Linked DNA regions of Homo sapiens: region 2 is linked to region 1. The links come from fine-mapping of genetic effects on gene expression. A gene starts in region 1. The other region holds a variant in brackets. All regions are shown on one strand. Distances are between the middles of the regions.

Evidence for each region. PIP is the estimated chance that this variant, and not a neighbour inherited with it, causes the effect.
Region 2: its variant is the best candidate, but not a certain one, in a credible set for the expression of STOX2 in monocytes after R848 (Quach 2016, PIP 0.86).

What each region holds. Positions count from the first base shown.
Region 1 is chr4:183,903,238-183,907,630 of GRCh38, reverse strand. STOX2 (storkhead box 2) reads right to left here and starts at 2,324. Exons shown (of 4, transcript NM_020225.3): 1 at 675-2,324. The coding sequence starts at 840. RefSeq lists enhancers at 1,364-2,071, 2,072-2,781.
Region 2 is chr4:183,828,772-183,833,164 of GRCh38, reverse strand. It overlaps a transcript of STOX2 not described here. Among named protein-coding and RNA genes, the nearest start is that of STOX2, 74 kb to the left of the region's middle. The variant G/A (reference allele first, on the strand shown) is at 1,748.

The sequences.
Region 1 (4,393 bases):
ATTTACCGTTTTGTTTGTCCCTCCTGTCTGACATGCAAACACATGATACAGCCTCCATTCTTTCCATACAGCCTAATTCAAAGCAACATATGTTAAATCCACACAGAATCATGTGAGCATTCAATCCGCATCCACACCATTACCCCCACAGAACGCGTTCAGTAAGCTCCAACACAGTTCTCTGCGTGCAAATCAGACCAGCCTGGGATGTCTGCAGGACTCTCCCCTGACTCAGCCCATCCAGAGCTGCGCATGGAACCTGTTCCTTTTGGAGAACAGGGGGCTGCTGGAAATACCCACTCAGATAACCGGCCACAATGCAGCAGCCAGCAAGCCTGGCACTGCAGGCAACCCTGGGCGCAGGATCCTCCACAAAGCTCGAGGAGGCTGCAGCGCCGGGGCTTGCAGTCATTTATCTCCCTGCAGCCAAAACGCCCGGCTCGTCCCCCCTCCCTCGTTTTACCTAACTAATAGCTCTCCAACCCCATATTGAGAGGGCCTGCTGTGGATCTTGGGAGGTACAAAATGGTGGATGGGAGCTAATTTTTTCCTGCTTTCCCCATAACTTATCGCATCCATCACTGCCCGTCCTCTCCTCCAAGCACCCGGGCCGCGGCGTACCGAGCACGTCCCGCGGCCCCGGCCCGGGGGCAGAAACGCGGTCACCAACCAACCTGATGTCATGTAGCCCCGCGAAGCCTGGGGCGCGAAGGCCGCGGGGAAACGCTTGTGCAGGCGGTAGTCCTTCTCGCTGCGGGACCTCATGCGGTCCGAGGCCCGGTCCGAGAAATCCGAGCTAGGCCAGGCTCGCCGCAAGGTTGTGCTCCGGGTCTTCTTCATGGTGGGGAGGGCGACCTGCCGCCCCGATCCTCGGGGCCTCAGCGCCGGGGCGCAGCGCGCTCCTTCATCCGTCTACGGCGGGCACGACCCGGGCGGACTCTGCGCACATTTTCCCAGCCCCTCCTCGTCGGCGTCTACACCGCCAGCGGCGGGTCCGGCCCTCCCCACGCCCCCCCACACCCCCACGGCGAAGGCTCCGATTTTACACACGTCCCACAATGCATTACACTTCATTTGCAATCCGCCCGGCTTATAGCTTCCAGATTCCTGGGGGGAAAGGCACGTTAGGAGGCTCCCCGGCCGGGAGGAGGCGGGGAGGGGGCGGGCGGGGTGGGGGCGCCGAGACTTGCAGCGTGAAGGCAATGGGAGCGCAGACAATGGCCCGATTCAGCGCAGGAGTGCTTGGCCAACTGGGAGCCACGGCACAAAAGACCCAAACAAATGAGGCAGCCGAGGCCTCCGGGGCTGACCCGGGATCGGGCGTGCGGGAGGCCGGAGGGGCGGCGGCAGACCCTCCGCGCCGGGCAGCTCAGCGCGAGGCGTGGGGATGACAGTGTCCGAGTCGTGTCCCCGCGGGCCTATCAGCCGCACGGCCCGCAGTCCCCGGCGCTGGCTGGCTCTGCCTCCGCTGCAGTCCCCGGGAGACAGTCTTCATCACAGAGGCTCGAGCGGGGGGCGCGTGTGCACAGGATCCGAGCAGGCTCTGCAGACAGCAGCTGCGGCGGGCGGGCTCCTGCGGAATCCAGGAAGAGCCCGCGTCGTCCCCGCGACTGCAGCGCCTCGTCAATCTTCCCCTTGCCGAGGCTCCGGGCGCTGTGCGTGCGCGCGGGTGGATGGCTGGGTGGGTGCGCCGACACGCATGTGCCCCCTACACATGCATGCTCCTACTTACTGGCCGAGGCGGCGCCGGAGCCATGGCTGCCAAGGACGCCGAGCCTGCGATCGACCCCCGCGCGGCGGCAGCGCTGCTCCGGCGCGAGCGCGCGGAACGGCTATTGAAGGGCAGGAAGCAGGACAGCCGCCCAGTCTCATGCTAATCACCAGGCTGCCTTAAGTTAGAACGCGGTTCCCATCAGGCTTCTCATTTTCATGTAAAACACCCGGCGGCGGCGCGGGGACCTTGGCAGCTGCCCCAGCCTGGAGCCAGCGCTTGGATATTTACATATTTTTAGGATGGTCCCTCCCGCTCGGAGAGAGACAGCGAGCCAGCCTTCGTGGGAACGGGGAGATCTGCGGTGCGCTGCCTGGCCCACCTGCGCCAACCCCAAAGGAAGCTAAAGCCAGAGGGAGGGGAGGCCACGGCGAGCTCCCCCACAACCGCACACGCCGGGGCGCCGGGTCCACGCAGCCTGGAAGACGCAATGCAAGTGGCCTGCAGCGCTTCCTCTCTCCCTCTGGAGTCCCGGTGTAAGTCACCGCCAGCCCGCTACGCTGCATTCAGGTCCACAGCTCTTTAGATGGCACGGCTCTGCACAGCTGTTTCTGGTCCAACAACCAATCGCTAAAGGACAACAATGCGCGCGGCGCGCGAGGGGAGGAGGGGCCAATGCGCCGCCCGGGCCTGGGCGCTGGGCCCGGGACGCGGGCCTGGGACCCGGAGGTCACGCCGAGTTAAAGGCGCCCAGCCACGTTGCTGCTAACCCCGACCACGCTTTGCACTGCCGTTCATTCAAAAACGGTTATCTCCTCGATTTGGGTTTTCAAAAATGCTTTGGTACAGTAAACAACGACAAAAATAAGCCCGATTTCCTTTTTCAGCGCTGCATTTGACATGTTGGTGCATTTTTTCATCTGTGACAATGCAACGTTCAAAATCATATTTATGCTGTTGTTTCATATTCACAGGTGCCAAGATGCAGAGACAGGGATATTAAATCTTTATAGGGATATGCTTCTAACAGGCTGATATCGCAAAAACAAGCCAGTGGATTCTAGCTGGTTAGGATTCAGGAAGTTCTAACACAATCTGTGCTATTCCAAGGCTTGAATTATTTGAGGGGGGTAGCAACTATCTTGAAGAACCAGGCAGAGCAGGATGGCGTTAAGCCACAGGCATTATAAAATCTAGAATTAGAGCTCTCCTCATTCAGATCTCAAGACCGCCCTCTATAACCTGTGGCCACTGTACTACCTCTTGGGATACCCAGGGTAAATAAATAAATAATCACTAAGTAGCCTATGGAATTTATATTTACATAATCAAAATGTATTACTGTCAACCAATTCACTAATGTTCTGTGGTTTTTATTTTTAATTGGGAAAGGCACTTCTAGTTCAATGTCTTCTTTCCTGTAAGAGAACTGCTAAGAACAGAAAGATTACAGCTTTAGAAGTTATAGAAGGCACTTTTAGTTCAATGTCTTCTTTCCTGTAAGAGAACTGCTAAGAACAGAAAGATTACAGCTTTAGAAGTTATAGAAAGCTAGCTGTATAAAGCAGGGATCCCCAATTCCCAGGCCATGGACTGCTTGGATATTTACCTACCCCACAGATATTTACGGACCCCGTGCAGCTTCTAGTCCTCGGCCCATTAGCAACCAGGCAGCACAGCAGGAGGTGGGTGGTGAAGCTTCATCTGTATTTACAACAGCTCTCCATTGCTTACTGGCATTACCTCCTGAGTTCAGCCTCCTGTCAGATCAGTGGCTGCATTAGATTCTCACAGGAGCACGAACCCTATTGTGAACCATGCTTGGAGGGATCTGGGTTGCGTGCTCCTTATGAGAATCTAATGCCTGATGATCTATCACTGTCTCCCATCACCTCCAGATGGGACTCTCTAGTTGCAGGAAAACAAGCTCAGGGCTCCCACTGATTCCACATTATGGTGAGTGTATATTTATTTCATTATATATTACAATGTAATAATAAAAGAAATAAAGTGCACAGTAAATGTAATGCACTCAAATCATCCCAAAACCTTCTGCTCTCCAACCCTACCCCCACCCCAGTCCAAGGAACAACTGTCTTCCACGAAACTGGTCCCCAGTGTGAAAAAGGTTGGGGGCCGCTGGTGTAAAGGACCATAAGGTAATAACAAGTTGTATTAATGAATGTAGGAGAACTGACATTTAGATATCTCAATTCAACAATTACTCAGTACCTCCCAAGAGCCAAAGGTGGTTATATGAATGATTATAATAGCTATGACTTAAAGCTAATGGTGACTGCTGTGGCAACTGTGATAGTCATTCATTCAGCAAACAATGGCTGACTGTCTAGAATACGCAAGCCCTGGGATGGGTGCTGGGCAAACAGAACACCACACATGACCCTGCAGCAAACCGTCTAGTATGGAAGAGAAACAGTAGGCAAATAAATGCAGAAATTGTGCTAAGTTCTATGAAGAACAATAATCTCTCTAAGAAATGACAGTTGAGCTGAGACCTACAGCATGAGGAGCCACTCAAGCAAAGAGTGGGGGAGATGGTGTTACAGAAAGGGGGAACAGTCTGTGCAAAGGCCCTGGGGTAGAAGGGATCTTGACTTTCTGTTGGAGGAAGTGGAAAAAGGCCACTGTGGCTGAAATTGGAGCACAGTAAGAGGGAGGTTT
Region 2 (4,393 bases), 74 kb after region 1:
AAAGAACTGTCACTGAATTTAGAAAGACGATTAAGAACTGAGTGTATCAATGTTCAAACTCACTGAACCATGTCCATTTCACAGGGGAAATTTCAGGTAGACCATCGCCATGGATAATCCATATTTGGTAACAAATTAGCAAAATATTCTTAATAGCTGACTAATACTCCTATTGGAGATTGAAAAACATCAGCATGCTGTAACAGGTTTTGACGGAATCTGTAGTGTTTGGTCTGCAGAGGTGAAGTTAAAAGGAGACATCACTGTTCCTTAAATATACATGAAGGGATTGTGTATAAAGTTTACCTCATCTTTTTAATTGAGCCGAGAGTCAGAGGAAGAGCCTAACGACAGTAAGGGTAAGAGCCAGTTATAGGCTGGGTGTGGTGGCTCACGCCTCTAATCCCAGCACTTTGGGAGGCCAAGGCAGGCGGATCACTTGAGGTCAGGAGTTCAAGACCAGCCTGGCCAACATGGTAAAACCTGTCTCTACTAAAAATACAAAAATTAGCCGGGCATGGTGGCAGGCACCTGTAATCCCAGTTACTTGGGAGGCTGAGGCAGGAGAATCGCTTGAACCCAGGAGGCAGAGATTGCAGTGAGCCGAGATCATGCCACTGCATTCCAGCCTGGGTGACAGAGCAAGACTCCGTCTCAAAAAAAAAAAAAAAAAAAAAAGAGTCGGTTATAGGCTACTAAGAAGCTGCAGAATCTAGCTTTCTAGAGTTTTAAAAAACTGGATGAAGTATTACATTCCTTAGATAATTTCAAGAGTCTTCTCTAACAGAGATAAGCATACAACTAGGAGCCAAAATGGGGTTAGTAATATTTAGAGTCCCTGCTTTCAGAAACAAATAGAAATGAATGAGCTCCAGGGCCAGGTGTGGTGGCTCCTGCCTATAATCCCAGCACTTTGGAAGGCCATGGTGGGCGGACCACCTGAGATCAGGAGTTCGAGACCAGCCTGGCCAACATGGTGAAACCCTGTCTCTACCAAAAATACAAAAATTAGCCGGGCATGGTGACGGGCACTTGTAATCCCAGCTACTCAGGAGGCTGAGGCAGGAGAATCACTTGAACCTAGCAGGCAGAGGTTGCAGTGAGCCAAGATCACTCCATTGCACTCCAGCCTAGGCAACAAGAGTGAAACTCTGTCTCAAAAAAAAAAAAAAAAAGAAGAAGAAGAAGAAATGAATGAACTGCAGAATTCACCAGAAGAAGCTTCAGGGAGGGGCCGAGAAGGGGACTAAAGCCTGGAAACAGGAAAAATTGGGCAGAGCTGTCCCAGGAGAGAAAAGAGGAAGTACAAAGCCTCGGAAATGAGACCAGGGCGTGTTTACAGCCACCTAGACAGAAACTAAGGCAGATAAGCTTAACAAAATTTATTTATCTATGTATTTACTTTTAGTGTTTTTTGTCTATATCCGTGGGGTACAAGTGCATTTTGCTACCTGATCTATTGCTTCGTGGTGGTCAGGGCCCTCAGCGCATCCATCACTGACTAAATTTATTTTTAAGAATTATACAGCACAGCAGATTTTTTATAAACTAGAAGTTGATTAATTGTTTACTGTACCACAAAATTCTAATACCTAGCAAAATATTTCTAGACCATTCTTTTCGCAATTATTTAAGTCTGATATTCACCAAAAAAAAAAAAAATGTACATAGTTCTAAACTTTCCATCAGGGTTTTCTAATGTTCATGAACTAATGTTCATGGTCCCCACAATTATTTGTGTTTTCTG[G/A]TACTGCCTAACCATCTGTTTCCTGATTGGAGCTGCAATTTGGCAACGTTTATAACGTAAGATTCCAAGTTCAAGGCAAACTTGGGGGCGGAAATGAAGAAAGGCAAAAGAGCCAAGCTTCTTTCCTGCCACAATTTTCCTTACATGTGTGCAATTTCTGTGGGTGTGTTCTGTACAGGACAACCTTTTTAACCTACTGTATCCTGCCTTTCAAATCGTCTTCTCTCCTGTAGACCTTTAGCAATAAACAACTCTCACTGAAATCTTCCATCCCCCCACCATCCCCCCTCACGCCTCCACACCCACCAGGAAGGAGAAAAGCCAACACCCTCCAAGCCAGCTGCTCAGGCCCGGAGTTCGGTCCCATGTAGTGCTTGGCCATCTCCGCCGAGGACTAACCCAGAATCCCAGGATTCTTCTACCACCAGCCTAGGAAGGATCTAAACACCAAAGCCTGCAACTTTGAAACTGAAAACTGTTCAATCATATACAGCTAGCCAAAAAAAAAAAAAAAATTCTAAAAATGCAGACCTGCCTGTTACAACCTCTGAAAACGTTTTGCACAGCATTCTTCCCCAGTCTTCCCCTATTGGTGTGGATCAGGTGACCCTGAAACCGGAACAAGTGTCCTATTGTTGGAGGAGGGCCCTTAATGACTACTTTTCAGCTGACAGTGAAGTTCATGACTAATTTCTTTTCAATGAGCCATTGGCCTATGATGAAAGGTATGTTTTCATCCCAGCTAATTTCAACCAACAGATATACCCTATATCACCCTCAGATATACCCTCAGCTAACTGCCACACAAGGAGTGACTACTAGCCAGGCCAGACCAGCCCTGGGCACATCAAAAGGGCAGGGTCAAAGGTAAAGCCAGCCTGGGGTCATGGCTAAGGTCAAAGGATAAGAACCCTCATGACCATCTCTCCCAGCCCTGGCACAGAGGACTTCACTGGACTCCCTCCTTCCCACAGAAGGACACAGCTGTAGTTGCATTTTATCACCCAGTGGAATTCAGAAAACAAGATAACACCCATAGTAGCAAACTCTCAGTGCACCTAGAATGTAATTCAGTCGACTGAGAGTGTAAAAACCCCATGTGCTTGCACTTGGCCAATGAGGGGGAATTCTTTTAATTATAGTTAGAACAGTATGTTACTCCTAGCCCAATTTTCTACTGTGTGCAAGGAAAGCAGGTTAGCAGAAAAGCAAGTAACAACGCACCAGGTGACCCTAGATACCTTGTTGGGGGGGATGTGAAATTAGTTCTGCTCAGACACTGGAAATAGCCCTACCTCCCTGAGACACTGTGCTCAGGGCCACATAAAAATCCATTGACAGCCCAGAAATAGTCACAATCAGCATAACTTCAGCAACAATGCAGTAAAGATCTAAAGGATTCGCCGATTCTACCCCATCACTCATACCTGCAAGAAGAGGGAGCAGGCCCAGTAATGGCCATCTTCAGCATTCCATGAGGAAATGTCTCTGAAACACCCAGCACACACAGCAGATGCTCAGTAAGTGTTCACTTTTCTTCGTGTCTCTTTGGGAGTGTAAGTTCCTTGGCCAGGAGAGGAGAATTACTCTGTTTCATTTCCAACACATAACAGAAAATCTAATTATAAAGTTCATTACAATCAGGATCCATTAGGTGCATCTGGTTGCAAGTAACAGAAACCGCAAGTCGAGCTGGCTTAAAATTACAGGGAACGTATTGACTCACTATCTGTGAACTCCTGAGGTGGGGCTGGAATTGAAGGCCTTGGCCCATGGCTAAGACAATGTGACCAAGGGCTGATTTTCACAAGAAATTTAAAGTGTACTGTGTTACCTATGCTGGTGACTGACAGTTTAATACAAAGACATGAGGGAGACGTGCCACCAAATGCAAAGGGAATGAGGAGCATTAAATAATCTGGCGCATAGAAGTCTTCTAGTTATGTATAACAGTACCCTAGATTCTGGGGGTTGGAAAGGCCTGCAAGTGTGACAAAGACAAACAAATGACAAGGGACTAGAAGTTGCAACAAAAAGAGAAAGGAAACGGCTTTTTTCCACGTTCTGTCTTTTCTTTCTGCTACTACTGCAACTCACAATCCCACCAGTCTTAAAGAATGTTGAATGTAGAGATGAATGTTTTTAATTTTTCCAAAATAAGAATGTGTATGTTTCAAAGAATAGCAGATTAACTAAATGCCTCAAATATAATTTCTCTCATCAAAGAAAAAGATGATAGATTTTTAAAAACAAAAGACCACTTTCTTTGGATAGGAAAAGAGCAAAAGTTTATTTCTAAATTCTCTTGTTTCTTAATGCTAATTGGCAAAATATCTGTGGAGAAAATTAGTCAACTTTATAAATGTTGCCATAAAACAGCTGAAATCAGCAAATTGCTAATCTCCCGGTTGGCACCCAAGCCAAACTGCTTTCCTTCTTCTGCCTGTTACAACTTAAATCTACCTGACAAAACACATGTGTCTGCAGCACCAGGTCTGGCGTCCGTGGTAGGTTTTTTACAAGGTACCCATGATTCTCTGTCTAGTTTTAAAGTGTGATCTTGGTTAAATACAGAAAAAAACTCCATCAGGCTCAAGGTACATCACAATACTCCACTTTGAATTTGGCAAGGTCCCCCAAACAAAG